Linked DNA regions of Homo sapiens. The protein of the gene in region 1 purifies or fractionates together with the protein of each later gene. This does not show direct contact. Each region holds a gene or a part of one and is shown on either strand. Other genes may lie near its edges.

Region 1 (8,075 bases):
ATGACAAATGTAATTATAACCTGCTATTATATACTAACTGTAAAAGGTTAAGAATGACACAGCATTTCATTAACAAACATACTATAGCTGCATGAGGTGGAAAATTAGAGCCATCTTATTTCATAGGAAGTTGATTCATCTCATGGTAAAAGATCTACAAAAACTTATTTCTTATTCATTTCACCCTGAAATTTACTGAAATGAGACGACATTTTTAACTAAACTACAATTATTGAAACTGAAAGAACACCGAATAGGAAGTCAAGCAACAAGTGAGGTCTGTCTTCAGGCCTACTTTTGCTGTTAAACCAGTGGTATATGCTCAAGCAATTTACCTGTCCTCTCTGCATTCAAATGTACTCATTTATGGATCTAAAGTTTTTCTTTATTGCCTTATTTCTATTATCCTAACATCACTGATGCATCACTTATATGAACACTGTTAATTTCCTAAAAATATACTAAAAGGAATTTTACTTAACGTATGAAAATGTATTACCCAGTAATGACAAATAATAGCACTTTTCTATGAGTAATCTGAACCAAATTCCAAATGTTACAGTAAAGTTTCTTTCTGCCCCTAGATCCTTGGTTCTTAATCTTCTTTGTGATCAAGTCCCAAATCCTAGGAAAATTAGGGATTTTTTTTTTAAATAAAATGCTCATGTTAAAATGTTGCATAAAATTTCAAGCAATTCATGGTCTCCTAAAGCTCCACTGGACCAAGTCACCCTGTTCTTCACAGAATGTTTGCCATATAGATTCTGGCCTTTATGTTGTGAATTTGCTTTATGTTTTGACACAATGGAAGTATTCAGATATTACTAACAAAACTTTAATAAATGTCAAAACTGGCAAAACTGGGCATTTTACAGGGGGTCAGTATCTGTTAAAGTACACATACTCACAGAAAGACACACAAGAGCACAGCATAAATAAGCAAGAAATGGAAATATAATTGACAATATGTATTACCTAAGAAGCTCTGGATACAGATTCCAAAGAGATGGTACTTAAATCTTGATCTTTTTCAAAGTTCTGAGATGTAATTACCCAATTAATTTAGGTAAATAAGGACAACTCTGTTGGGTGGCTTTCTTAAAACTACCTTTTATTGGCATTCTGAAAATGAAAAACCTTATGAGGGAACTAGAAGAATTTACCTCACTGAATGTGAAATCTCTTTAAGGTCATCATTTTCAGGCCATCTTTGGTAATACCTTTTAATCCAAGACACTGATACTCACACTGACATAACTTTGTTCTAAAATCTGACAAACATTTATGAATTTGAGTAACTAAGACAAACACACCCCAGGTGTTCCTTTGCACTGCAAACAACCATTTGCTAGAATTGCAAAATGTTGATGAAAACTTCAAGTTGCAAAGAAAACTGTGGCAGTCATGTTTGAAATATTATTTTAAAATCTACCCTTCCAATGGAATCTTTACATACAAGACTTCAAATGAAACTTGGTTTGTTTAAAGTTGAAGGATGGTATTTAATACTCCATTTATATGCAAAATAAGGCAAGTGTGCCTTTAAAAAGACAGGCAACTCTTAGCAATGTGTATTAATAAACAAGCACAGAGAAATAAATACTATACTAGATTGCTGTTCTTTCTTCAGCGGAGTAGGAGAAATCACCTAGGCTCTAACTCTAAGAGGAAAGAGCAATAGGGAAGAGTATATATATATGGAAAAAAAGAAGAAAAATCAGGGTCAGCACACAGGTGAGCTAGGGAGCTCAGGTAAAATGTACTGCATGAAAAGTATTATACTTGGTGGCCCCCCCAAGAGAGAAGCCACAGCAGAAGCCAGCACATCCCATGTCCTATTGCGACATCTGTGGTTCCAATTATTCCAGCAGTGTAGTCTGGCTACTCAGGTCAAGAACAATGTGCTGCAAATACTACGTACTCAATATTATTTCACAAAATTGAAAATAATTTATACTGGAATTGGAAGAAAAGCATGGAAACTCCCCATATCCTGAATTTACTTGTGTTTTGTATCTATTTTTTTGTATACTCTATAGTTATAAGCTTTCAATGTGTATCTGTTGAATATATAATCTACTTACAGTTAATCAGGAGGCAATCAAATTATTTCCTAGTAGTTCTTACACAGTCTTAGTAGGCTGGAAGGGTTCTTACAGATATAAGGAAATTGGATCCTAATGATATTAGGTAACTTGCCTTAGGTTACACATAGTTATTGAGACAGTGAGACACAGACTAGTCAATGGACTAAAAATTCTGTATTCTTTATGTTACAATATTTTCTTATTTAAGGATATCACCAGTGTATAATCACTGCTATTATCATTTTCATCATCAGCTACATTTAATTTTTGCCACAACTCTGTAATGTAGGTATTAGTCCCATTGCATAGACAAAGGCACTTAAGTTTCAGAGAGACAGTGAACTGCCCAAGGTCACACAGCTTTTTTTAGTAATGAAAAAATCAGAATTTGAATCCAGTCTGTTAAGGAGAATATAAATGTAGATCATGCTGCTACTACTAATTTATTCATTGAAGAAATATTTGAGTACCTACTATGTGCCGGCACCATTCTAGAAGCTGGAAAAGCAGTAGTGATGAAAACAATGTCCCTGCTCTCTTGGAGCTTACATTGGGTTGAGGGGAAGGTGGTGGGAAAGAAAAGGAGAGACCAAAAAATAAAAACCAAATAACTATATCAGATAGTATTAAGAGCTATGAAGCAGGTAAGGAAGACAGAGAGAAAGACAGAGGAAGAAGGAAGATGCTGTTTTACAATGTGAAGACAAGGAAAGCCTCCCTGGTTAGGCAACATCTAGGTGGTGAAGAAGCAAGTTATGTGGATACGTGAGGGAAGACTGAGCCAAACTCAGACAAGTGCAGAAACCCTGAGCAAGATGTGAGTTTGCTCAAAGAGTGAGAAGGCCAAAGGGAGCAAAGTGAACAGGAGGAAAAATACAGGTCATGGCTGTGAAAAGACTGCAGGATCCAGATCATACAGAGCTCTGAATGGGTAGAAAGCAGAAAGACCAGTTAGCAACCTAGCACAGAAATGGAGCCTAGAAAAATCATGGCTTGGACTGGAATAGTCACAGTGGATGTCATAAGAATTGATCAGATTCTGCATGTATTTGGAAGGTAGAATGATAAAGGATTAAAAATATTTCAATACAGAGAACTAAACACAAAATTTGTCACTGTACAGTATCAAGCATTCTAAAGAATGAAATAGAGGCATAAGATAACATACTCTACTGATCAATGTATTTATTTCTTAGAAGGCAGAATGATATAATAAAACATTTCAGTATAAAGAAATCAATTATTAAAAATAAAATTTATCATTATATACTAACAAACATTCTAAAGAATGAAACAGAAACATAAAACAACTTACTTTACTGGACAATGTATTTATTTCTCGTTCAGCTTTATGCAATTTATTAATTAAAAAGGTATTTTGTTCACTGCTTGATTGTAGCTCTTTTTCCAAACGTTCTGCCCGTAAATTAGCTGATTGTTTTTCAGCCTTTCATACAAACAAAATAGTTTAAAATTCATCATTTTTCAAGTATTTCAAAATCAAATAAGCACTATTTAAAATACATTTATAATTATACTAAAATTATTCAAAACCTCAACTTAACATATACCAATGTAACAAAAATTTTCTCAAACTAATTGGCAGAATTCAAACGAAAGATAGTGTTCCAGGAAATATGCAACAAAGGCATCTAGACAAACAACATATGAATGACCATCAATAAAATAAAGTTTATACACTTCTCTCACGACAGAAAGTACCTAAGGCATTCATTTGATGTCTATTTACTCTTAACACTGACTTATTTCAAACATTTTGGAAGTTTCCAGTCTATAACAGATAAGAAAAAGCATATTAGAAACTAGAAGACAGGGCTCATTGATAGTAACAAGTAAAAATTGAAAATCTAAAATCAATGATTTTAAAAAAAGAAACAGGGAAAGATATGATTTCAAAATCCTCAGCTCATCTGCAGACTTTTTAAGTACGAGCAAAGAGGCTCTTGATCTCATGACACAATTAAGATTGTTAATGAAGTCTGCAGGTTGTCAAAAAAGTTTCTGGATGGTAATATCGATAGTACTCTTTCATGAGGGGAGGGAAACTAAAATCTTTTTTGAAAAAACATGTCTATTCAACATAATATATATACATATATACACACACACACACACACACACACACACACACACACACACACATATATATATATATATTTTTTTTTTGAGACAAGGTCTTGCTCTGTCTCCCAGGCTGCAGTGCAATGGCACGATCTTGGCTCACCACAACCTCCGCCTCCCAAGCTCAAACAATTCTCCTGCCTCAGCCTCCCGAGTAGCTAGGACTTCAGGTGCACACCATGGCACCTGGCTAATTTTTGTACTTTTTGTAGAGACAGGGTTTCACCCGTGTTGTTCAGGCTCATCTCAAACTCCTGAGCTCAGGTGATCCAGCTACCTCAGCCTCCCAAACTGCTGGGATTACAGGCATAAGCGACCACACCTGACCTCAACATAATTAAAATGAAGACATTTTGGCATTTAAAGGATAAATTTCAGTTTTATAACATCTCATTTCGTACATATAGATGCTGTTCGACTTATGATGGGGTTACATCCTGATAAACCCATCACAAATTGAAAATACCTAAGTCCATAACTTAGACTAGCCTAACTTAAGCATCCTCAACACACGTGCATTAGCCTACAGTTGGAAAAAATCATTTGGCGACACAGTACTCTGTAAAGAGGTTATTTACCCTCATGACCACATGACTGACTGGGAACTGTGGCTCAGTGCAGCTACCCAGCATTAAGAGTATCACACCACATATCAGTAACCCAGGAAAAGATCAAAATTCAAAGTACATAAATGCATATATGGCTTTCACACCATCGGACAGTCAAAAAATAGTAAGTCAAACCACCTTAAGTTGGGGAACATCTAGCTTAAATGTGGTAAGGACTATATTCGACAAACAATTAGGGAAAAAAACTATTTTCTTCATATATGAAATAATACTCTCTGGGCACAATGATAGCCAAGAAAGTTAAAGAAGAAAGAAATGCTTGCTGTCATACGCTTATTTTCATTTCATCTGACAAATAATAAAATTAAATATAGGCTCTTCTGAAAATGTCACAAATAAATCTTCTGTCATCATTCAACTTGCCCTGAAAATAATCACTCTAAAGGACCTCAATGGAAAGTTTCACATCAGGACTGTATGCTATATTCAACTGCAATCATCTCACTTATTCTGTCACTGTGTAAAATACATTAAGGATGGAAGGATGGCAACATAAATAGTCTCACAATGAACTGCTTCATGTTTAAGGTACAATGATACTGACAACTTTTAATTCAGAAAACCAGTAAATACTGACAGAGCGTCATGTAACAAAATAAAAAGTAACTTCTACTCTTCAAAACATACCATTGTACTCCTGTACCACTGGCTGGGGAAAAAAAAAATCACCATCTTGGATTTGGATATTGATTTTAACTACAAATTAAATGCCCGCTAATGTCCCCCCCACCCAAATCATTTTATAACTATTCCAAAGGAAAAAGAAACACTTTGAACTATACAAAATAAATAAAAACAATTAAACAGGTATGTTTGCTACAAGTTAGGCACTAAGAACTAAGAAGAATAAGTGTATCTGAATAAAATGGAAACCAAGAATTTTCATAAGGCAATACCCGTAGGAGTACCAGTCAGGTCTGCCAACACTTATCTTTCTCTAATGAACCCAGGGAAATAATTCTGTAAAGGCATGTATACCTTTACAGTTGGATTTTACTACTCTGGCAAGAAGCTGTCGTAAGATACATCAGTATGGTATTTCTGTTCAAACAGGATTTGTGACTTTAAGACCTCAAATCCCAGTGTAAGGAATGTACTATCTTGAAAGAAATTATTCTTTCTGGTTTGAGATGACTTTACGCTCAGAAACTCAAATACATATATTTTTATTTTGCATATTCTATTATGTGGCATTTTAAGAGTTAAGACATTTCAGATAGGTGACTTGACTCCCAAAGAATAAATACCCCTTTGTAAATGTGGTAGCATACGTATTGCTTATGAATCAATAGCTTTCTTCTTTACTAAAAGAATAAATACTCTTGGGATTACACAAATGCATCAGCATTAGCTTGGGGGGCATACATTTATGCTCTAAAAATCAAAGGCTTGTCAACTGCACTTTAAAAAAGTATGCCATACTCTACTGGGAAGTAATTAGAATCTTACCTCCAGGGATCTGACTGTAGCCTGCATCTCAGCCAACTGCCGCACCTGTATTCTTTGGGCATTTTCCACCTGAGCCTCAGAATTCTCCTTTTCAGCCTTTAATTCCGCTACTTCAGCCTCTAAACCTTTTAATTTTTGACACAAATAGACTTTTTCTCGAGCAAGTTGTTCCACTCGTTTGCTGTCTTTTGTGAGATCAACATTAAGCAGCTGGTTACGTAGTTCTTCTTTATCTTCCTCCAGTCTTGCAATCTAATAATAATTTTAAAGAAAGCATACAAGGTTAAATTATTAAATTTTCAGTCATGAACATGCTTTACAAGTCAGTAAAATTAAAAAATGCACAAAATCAAAGCTCAGGTGCTGAAACAAAGTACAAAGGAAAAAATTTTAAGTATCACTATCTTTTTGTTCTTAGTGGGACTCAAATGTGAGGTCAAGGACTGTGTCCTGTTTTCCCTGTATCTCCACGTGGTGTCTAGAACAGGGCTTAATCAGTTGCTGACTAAAATTTAAAATTATAATACTGTAAGTACTAAACATACATCAAGTATTTTAAAATTCATCATAACATTATAGGGGTTCATGACCAAAACTCTGACTACTCCAAAGCTTTTCCTCACATGACTGTAATTCTTGAGCTAGTCTATACTAATAAAATTATCTATGTCAGGGCAACTTAATTCACACAAAAACTGCCTGTCTGTGTACATAAAAGCAAATGTGATTGATGAGAGTTTTTAAATGATAGCTGAGAGTTTATTAAAGTCCTAATTGTAATGATGGCCTAGTTCTTAGTTCTTAGATTCAAGAAGAATTGAAAAATCATTACTCCAGGGCAGGTGTTAAAGTCACTGGGGAACTTGCAGAGCAGAGACACCAGTGGTCTTGTCATTCATGCCAATTATCACTGCTGGACTTCGTGGGCCTCCAAATCAGTGGGTTTCAAACTGTTTCCTAACCTCTGAGGCATTTCAGAAGCTCCTCACCTCTGGAGACCAGGGGCAAGCAATCAGGGTCTAGAACTCATTCTTTCCCTTTCCTGATCTCCCCAACTATCTATCCCCTACCACCACCCCCACCAAATTTCTGGCATTAACCATACGCTTCTATTTTTAGTCTCTTTCTGGGGTTTCTTCAAATGATTCAACTTAAGTAAATGATTCAGCTGGGTTTTTTGTTTGTTAAGAAGAAGTTGAAAACCACTGCTCAAAACAGGACAAGAGGTTGTTTGTAGCCAGGATGAACATCAAAGACTCACTGTAAGCTCCCCGGCCCTGCAAAAAAAAAAAAAAAAAAACAAAAAACAAAAACAGAAAAAACTAAAGAAATGCTCCAAAACCTTAGGCAAAAGTGGTCCAAGAAACAACTGTTTGATCACAGCACTATCAATGAATCTAAAAAGTTTAAGACCTCCACCCCAGGGCAGGATCTGTTCTCCACACCTGTAAAATGGGAAACTGAATTACATGCACTCTAACAACCTTTTTAGTTTTAACACATAGTGATTCCAGTTTGTTTTTGGACATGCTGAATTTAAATGCCAATGAGAAATATAGGTAGAGCTATCCAGCAGACAAATATTATTTTGCAGAGAATAAAATTTATCCTTGAAGGCAGCTGTGGCATTTAGAGTTAAGTCCTCAAAAGCCCAACTAATTAGTATTTCTCTCCTATTTTTCCTCCCACGCTTTACAAATAACTATTACTTCCTGGTTTGGTCCCGGATTACTTTTTTATCCACTGTATTCTGTCCTCAGTTTAAATG
Region 2 (8,075 bases), on another chromosome or scaffold:
GAAAAAAAAAATTAAAAAGATGGGGGCATGTCAAAGGGACACAGGAGCCAACCAAAAAGAGCTCCCAACAGTCAAAGCTGGAATTATTCGACGGAAAAAAATAGATTATAAAATCTCAAAGTACAGAATAAATATACACAAGCCAATACACACTCACACATACACACTAGTCCATAAGATACAAACAGTGGAATAAAGCAATAAATGGGTGAAAAGAGACAAATCTTCCTTACAAAATTCCGAATATATGTAGATACCCTTAACTCCGGGAAGTGGAATCTAATCCCTTCACCCACTTTGGGGGTGGGCTAGACCTGGCTACTCATTTTCATAAGAATAGCTATAGAAAGGGAAAAATACTAACTTTAATACTTAACCTAGCAAACACTAACTTAATCAAGTGATCATGGTTAATATCACTAATGATGTCACATGGATATCACAAAACCCCTGATATGATATGGTATTCTATGGTATTCTTTCCAAAAACACGTAATTCTTGACTAATCATGAGAAAAATATCAGACAAAGACAAAGAGAAGGGCAGTCTACAAAACAACTGACTAGTACTCCTCAAAATGGTCATGGTCATGAAAACAAGGAAGGACTGAGAAATTGCCAAAGACCAGAGAAGGCTAATAGAGATGACCACGAAGTGCAATATGTTACCCTGAATTGGATCCTGAAACAGAATGGGCACATGAATAGAAAAACTGTTGAAACACAAACAGAATCTGGAGTTTGTTTAAACGATGTTAATAACAGGGCACACTGGGTGAGAGGTATGCAGGAATCCTACACATCATCTTTGCAACTTTTCTGTTGGAACAATCTATAATTATTCCAAAATAAAGTTAATTTTTAAAAAGTTTCCTCTTAAAAAACTAACATTTATTTTCAAAAAAGGTAATGTCGTGAAAACGAATAATTTTAAAAAGTGAGAACACTAGGTCAGGCACAGTGGCTCAAACCTATAATCCTAGCATTTCAGGAGGCTGAGATGGGAGGATTGCTTGAGGCCAGGAGTTTGAGACCAGCCTGGTCAACACAGTGAGACCCCATCTCTTTAAAATAATAATAATAATAAAGTGGGGACACTACATACCTACCAGAAGGGCTAAAATCCAAAAACCAGATAGAACTAAGTGCTGTTAAGAACGTGGAGCAAGAGGAACTCTCATTCATTGCTAATAGGAATGCAAAATGGTACAGCCACTCTGGAATAGAGTTTGGCAGTTTCTTACAAAACTATAACTAGTCTTACCATATGATCCAGCAACCTGCTTCTAGGTATTTATCCAACTGAATTAAAAATTTATGTCAGCTGGGCACAGTGGGTTGTACTGTTAATCCCAGCACTTTTGGGAGGCCAAGGCAGGAGTTCGAGACTTTTATGACATAAAGAGTGAACTTTAATGTATGCAAATTTTAAAAAGTCATTTAGGAGACTGGGAGATTGCAGAAAAGAATGAAGACTATGACAAGGGAATCTATATTACAGATGTGTGAAACAACTTCACCAAAGGGGGTGGGAAAAAGGTTCTGACCTAAGTAGCTTTGGTAATGAGTGGAGTCTGAAAGATTAAGGGCAAAAGGAACTGCACAGAAGTATGTACTCTAGTTGATAAAGTTTTTTTCATGGAGTATGGGTTAGCAATTCTGATACTGCTATCCATGTATGTATATCCATATATAATGGAACTGGACAATTAAATAAATGGATGGTGGAAATTAGGTTTTTCACTATTGTGAATGGAAATTCAAAGATCAGCAAGGGGAGGAGGCTAGAATGATCTATGTGATAATGGATCAGAATTGGAGACACCAGTAGGAACTCATGTTTTTCCCCCCCGCCCATACTACTGAAAGTGATCTATGGAACTCGTTTAACTTAATATAGACACAGATGGCTACATAGAGAAATATTTATAGATATGTCTATATACATGGGGTTAGCATACATTCATATATTTCTTTGCTCTAACAGTTGAAAGGACCTAAAAGAAATGACACCCCAGTAGCAAAGAGAACACTCAGTACCCAGGTCTTGTTTCTAATAGCATTCTCCAATAAGGGAACCAGGGCACCTTGGGGAAATGGCTGATTCTAGCACTGGGACAAGAAATACACAAGATGAGCCTGGAACATTTCCAGATAGTAAGGAAGTACTCAAAGATCAATACAAATACGCGCACACACACACACATGTATGTTAAAGGAATACAGGAAGCTCCCAAAGGACAAAGCTGGAACAACCTGAACAACAAAATAATGTAATATTGGAGTGTAACCTAAAATATAAAATAAATATACTTGAGTCCACACTATTATCAGTAAATACTTGACTAAACTAATAAATGGGAAAGGAGAGACAAGAATTTCAAATAAATTAAGTAGGTACTCCACCCTAAGATCAAGGAACTCCCCATTCCTTAAGTGTGGGCTGCAAACAGTGACTTCCCTTCAAAGAATACAGTATAGAAAAGGAGGGGAAAAAAAAGTAAATTCACTGTAGAAACCTCACAAACACTATTTCAGGTCAATATGAACAGTCAAGGTCAATATTAAGTCATAAATCATGTTGATAGCATGTACCCTTGATATGATGTGATGAAAATGGCACTTTACCTCTGTGGTCTTCCTGCCCAAAACCTGTAACTCCAGTCTAATGAGAAAAACATCAGACAAATTCCAATAGAAGGACATCTTACAATGTATTTGACTAGTACCTCTCAAAACAGATTAAAATTTTTTTAAAAAATTCAGATGTATAATTTTTCTAGCTTTCTTAAAGACTTTCTGAACTAGTCTAAAATAATTTTAAGACTAATTGAGACTGTTAAGATACTGCTTACACCCAAAAACACAGGAACAAGCCTGGTGCAGTGGCTCACACCAGTAATCCCAGCACTTTGGATGCTGGAGCGAGAGGATTGTTTGAGGCCAGGAGTTCAAGACCAGCTTAGGCAACATACTGAGACTGTGTCTCCACAAAAAGAAAAAAATGACAGCCAGACACGGTGGCTCACGCCTGTAATCCTAGCACTTTAGCACTTTGGGAGGCCGAGGCAGGCAGATCACTTGAGTCCAAGAGTTCAAGACCATCCTGGGCAACATAGTAATACCTTGCCTCTTCAAAAAAAAAAAAAAAAAAAAAAAAAAAAATTAGCCGGGTGTGGTGGCACTCGCCTGTAGTCCCAGCCACTAGAGGCTGAGGTGAGAGGATCCCTTGAGCCCGGGAGGTGAAGGTTGCAGTAAGCAGAGATCAGGCCAACACACTCCAGCCTAGGAGACAGAGTGGGACCCCATCTCAAAAAAAAAAAAAAAAAAAAAAAAAAATTGCTGAGCCACCATTGTCGCAACATTTTTAGAATATAAAAATAAAAAAAAATAAATAAAGACACAGAAACACAGCCAACTGAATAGTCAGATACTGTTTTTATCACTTTTTTGTTCAGAGAAGATGATGCCAGTTTTGGCCAATTTTGTTCAACAAATATTTTTGACCACCTAGTTTGTTGCAGGCATTGTTGAGTCACTGAGGTAACCTCAAAGGAAAAAAAAAATCTATGTTCTGCTTTCATTTTTATGAGAAAATCTAACAATATATAGACAAACAATAAACAATTACATAACAATATATGCTATGAAGTAAATAAGGAAAAGTGAAGTAAAAGTGACCAAGAGGGCTCCTCTAATTCAGAGCTCAGAAAAGTGTCTCTTTAAGGAGATGACATTTAAGTTGAAGCCTGAGAGTGCCAGTAATACAGGCTGGGGGTAGGGGTAGAGTGAAGTGAGAAGTTCCAGAACAGAATGCAAAGACCGAAAAGAATAAGCGTAATGTGTTGGAGTTATACACATCAAGTAGGTAGAGTAACTGCCCTGATAGAAATGAGCTAAGTAATGTATTCTAAACTCCAGAGGCAAGAATAGGAAAATCATTTAAAAACCTTAAAACTCTCCAACATTGACTACCAAGAATCCTAATTAGATTAAGAACTCAATTTTTATGCGTCCCTTTAGCTACCCACCGCCACCACTGTCACAGTTGTCCATCTTCCATATGGTAAATGCCATCTTTCCTCTAAAAACTATCATGCCTGTCATTCATATTTCATCACATCTCCGATAGAAGTACTTTTTTAAAAGGGGCTGGGGGAATTCTACCCAGAAATTGCTCCTGAATTCTCCTACAGATCCCTACTTCACGTAGTACAATCATAGGTTAAGAGCAAAGGCCCTGGAGACAGACTGACTTGGGTTTGAATTCAGATTCTATCACTTAGTTCTATGATTTTGAGCATGTTGCACAGCCTTTTAAAGACTCAGTTTCCTCATCTGTAAAACATTGTGAGGATAAAAAAAGATAAAATGTAGCGGGACATGTTGGCTCATGCTTGTAACCCCAGCAATTTGGGAGGGTAAGGAGGGCAGATTGCTTAAGCCCAGGAGTTTGAGACCAGCCTGAGTAACATGGCAAAACCCCATCTCTACAAAAAATACAAAAATTAGCATGTGCCTGTAGGCCCACCTACTTGGGAGGCTGAGGTGGGAGGACAGATTGAGCCCAGGAGGTTGAGTCTACAGTGAGCCATGATCACACCACTACACTCCAGCCTGGGCGACAGAGTGAGATCCTGTCTCAAAAAAATTAATTAATTAATTAATTAAACAAAATGTGGGACCCAGTAGGCATTCAATACATGTTAGCTACTGCTAGTAAAAGTATCTGGGCATGTATTTTATTCAAGGACCAGAGCTGACCCCAGAGGGATTACAGAAACTATAATTTGCTACAGTAAATTGTTTGACAGATAAAACTGTCAAACTCCCTTAGGTCAGGGCCTTTGTCTTTTTCTGGTTCACCAGTGTATTCCCTGAATCTAGAACAATGTGTGACAGACATTAAGCATCAATCTCAATATCTGTTCAATGAATGAATAAGACCCCATTAAAGGAGCATAAGAGAGCCTGGCTTTACCTTAACATACTCATTCCCTGTCAAAATTTTTAACACTTATCCTAAGGCACTGTTAAAGTTGTTTATTATTTTTAATTGCTTACCAAAAACCTAGAACAGTGTTCATAATATTAAGGTACTCAAATTTATTGCAATTAAAACTTTGCTGCTGGAGAAGCTGAGAGCTGAACACATGGTGGTCCCTGGAGCGTGGTGTGCCCAGAGAGGGCATGGAAGCTCCATGCCTCTTCCCCTATACCTCACCCTATATAGCTCTTTGTATCCTTTGCAATATCCTTTATAATAAACTGGCTGGAAAATGTGTTTTCCTGAGTTCTATGAACAGGTCTAGCAAATTAATCAAACCCAAGGCAGGGAATGGGGGGCGGTATTAGGAATGCCCATTTTTATAGTCAGCCTACAGAAGCACAGGTAAAAAAAAACCTGGGGCTTCAGATTGGCATCTGAGTTGGGGGCAGTCTTCTGGGACTAAACCCTCAACCTGTGGGATCTGACACTACCTCCAGATAGAAAGTGTCAGAATTGGCCAGGTGAGGTGGCTCATGCCTGTAATCCCAGCACTTTGGGAGGCTGAGGCGGGCGGATCACTTGAGGCCAGGAGTTCAAGACCAGCCTGGCCAAAATGGAGAAACCCCGTCTCTACTAAAAATACAAAAAATTAGATGGGTGTTGTGGTGGGTTCTTGTAATCCCAGCTACTCGGGAGGCTGAGGAAGGAGAATCTCTTGAACCCGGGAGACAGAGGTTGCAGTCAGCCAAGACTGCGCCACCGCACTCCAGCCTGGGCAACAGAGCAATTCTGTCTCAAAAAAAAAAAAAAAGGTGTCAGAATTGAACTGAATTAGAGGACACACAGCTAGTGTCCACTGCTGAAGAACTACTTGCTTGGTGTGTGGGGAAAAAAATCTCACACATCTGAGGTCACAGAAGTTTTCTGTATTGTGAGAGTATAAGATAAACTTATTAAAGTTTCTTATTCTATATTCTCAGAATTGGCGTCAGAATTGGGATTTGCTAGAATGACTTGGCTCACAGACACATATGGTTTGGGAAGAAAAAGGATAAAAGGATAGGGATAAAGAACTTTGATTCTTAGGTGGCCAAGTGGTCACCCATGGTAAAGAGCTGAAGCTGTGCTGTCATCAATTACTAAAGGTAAAAGTTATCCATGGAATCCAGAGATGGATCCAACTGCCTGGGAGTTGGTTCACAGGATGCACAAGGAAATGCAAACTAGTATTAAAAAAGTGATATGCTGGCTCGGCACGGTGGCTCACGCCTGTAATCCCAGCACTTTGGGAGGCCAAGGCAGGAGGATCACGAGGTTAGGAGATTGAGACCATCTGGCTAACAGTGAAACTCCATCTCTACTAAAAATACAAAAAATTTAGGCGGGTGCTGTGGCTCACGCCTGTAATCCCAGCTACTCAGGAGGCTGAGGCAGGAGAATCACTTGAGCCTGGGAGGCAGAGGTTGCAGTGAGCCGAGATCGTGCCATTGCACTCCAGCCCTGGAGAAAGAGTAAGACTTTGGTTCAAAAAAAAAAAAAAAAAAAAAGCGAAATGTTAAATCCCTTGGTTATTGTTATCTGTAACAGCTAAAATGAAATTAAAAGAAAGTGGTGGGTTGGACCTTCCCGCTAGACCAAGCTCAGCTTTCAGTGAATGTGAGAGCTTAGGCCACTAACCTCAAAGCTGTCCCTCAAGGGAAAAATGTATGCCGGGACAACAGAAAGTGCTTCTAAGACCTCTGGTAACAAAGAAGGTGGTCTGCAAAAATCAAAGAACTATTGAAACCAGGGGGTACAATGTGAAGGAATTGTTTCACTTTGTACATTAGTATCATAAGCTTCCTGAAGGGGACAGTCTGATTCCATAAATGCCAAGTGGAACACCCCAGATCCAGATAGAGCCACTGATATACTTCATATGCAAGCCATGTGAAACTGGCTTTATGATGACTAGGACATTTACCCTCTGAATATGCCCACTACCCAGTCATGGTAAATGCTGTGGTTAAGGGTGACCCCTTAATGTGGATAACCTTACTGTTGCAAAATCAAAAGACAGTTCGAGAAGCCTTATCAAATGTGCTGTCTCAGTTTCCTCTCGTGGGTCTTACAGATGCTAATAAAACCATTAGGTTAAGAGAATGGTGAGACAGAGGGCAAATGGATTCAACCCGGAAGGTGGAAATTTTTAAATGGTTATTAAGAAGTAAGGTAGGCCGGGCGCGGTGGCTCACGCCTGTAATCCCAGCACTTTGGGAGGCCGAGGCGGGCGGATCACGAGGTCAGGAGATCGAGACCATCCTGGCTAACAAGGTGAAACCCCATCTCTACTGAAAATACAGAAAATTAGCCGGGCTTGGTAGCGGGCGCCTGTAGTCCCAGCTACTTGGGAGGCTGAGGCAGGAGAATGGCGTGAACCTGGGAGGCGGAGCTTGCAGTGAGCCGAGATCGCGCCACCGCACTCCAGCCTGGGTGACAGAGCAAGACTCCGTCTCAAAAAAAAAAAAAAAAAAAAAAAAAGAAGTAAGGTAGCAGGGTGTGGTGGCTCATGCCTATAATCCCAGCACTTTGGGAGGCCAAGACAGGATGATCACTTGAGCCCAGGAGTTCAAGACTAGCCTGGGAGCCAAAGGGAGACCCTGCTGGTCTCCCACCATTAAGGGGTTCCAAACAAGTTTGCTATATTTACCCCAGTTTGGAGAAATTGTAAGTCAGGAGGCAGATTACAATGAGAAATCTGATCTGAAATTGTGGAAACAATAGGTAGATGAGTCAAGATAAAGACTGGCAAATGGGCAAGGGTCTCTTGGCTCAACCACCTGCTGGGGACCCCAAGCCTTCTGTATATAAGTAGGTAAAATGGTCAGGGAGTGGCAAAAAGAAATTCCTGGGACTCCTTCATATGGAAGCCCCAGGTACAGTAGTACCAAGAGCCATTGGTGAAGCCCCGAACAGGGCTACAGTTAGATTAAGAGAAGGCCAGGCGTAGTGGTTCACGCCTGTAATCCCAGCATTTTGGGAGGCCGAGACAAAAGGATCCCTTGAGCCCAGGAGTTCGAGACCAGCCTGGGCAACAAGGCAAAAC

What was found. The genes of interacting proteins can lie anywhere in the genome.
Region 2: the proteins of CEP83 (region 1) and CKAP5 purify together in Homo sapiens (affinity purification with mass spectrometry; 2 studies listed by BioGRID and IntAct, with this or other methods). This does not show direct contact.

Annotation. Positions count from the first base shown.
Region 1 is NC_000012.12:94,372,484-94,380,558, forward strand, and holds part of CEP83 (centrosomal protein of 83 kDa), read right to left. Parts: intron 6,560-8,075; coding exon 6,308-6,559; intron 3,535-6,307; coding exon 3,403-3,534; intron 1-3,402. UniProt on the Homo sapiens protein: Component of the distal appendage region of the centriole involved in the initiation of primary cilium assembly.
Region 2 is NC_000011.10:46,835,482-46,843,556, forward strand, and holds part of CKAP5 (cytoskeleton-associated protein 5), read right to left. Parts: intron 1-8,075. UniProt on the Homo sapiens protein: Binds to the plus end of microtubules and regulates microtubule dynamics and microtubule organization. Acts as a processive microtubule polymerase. Promotes cytoplasmic microtubule nucleation and elongation. Plays a major role in organizing spindle poles.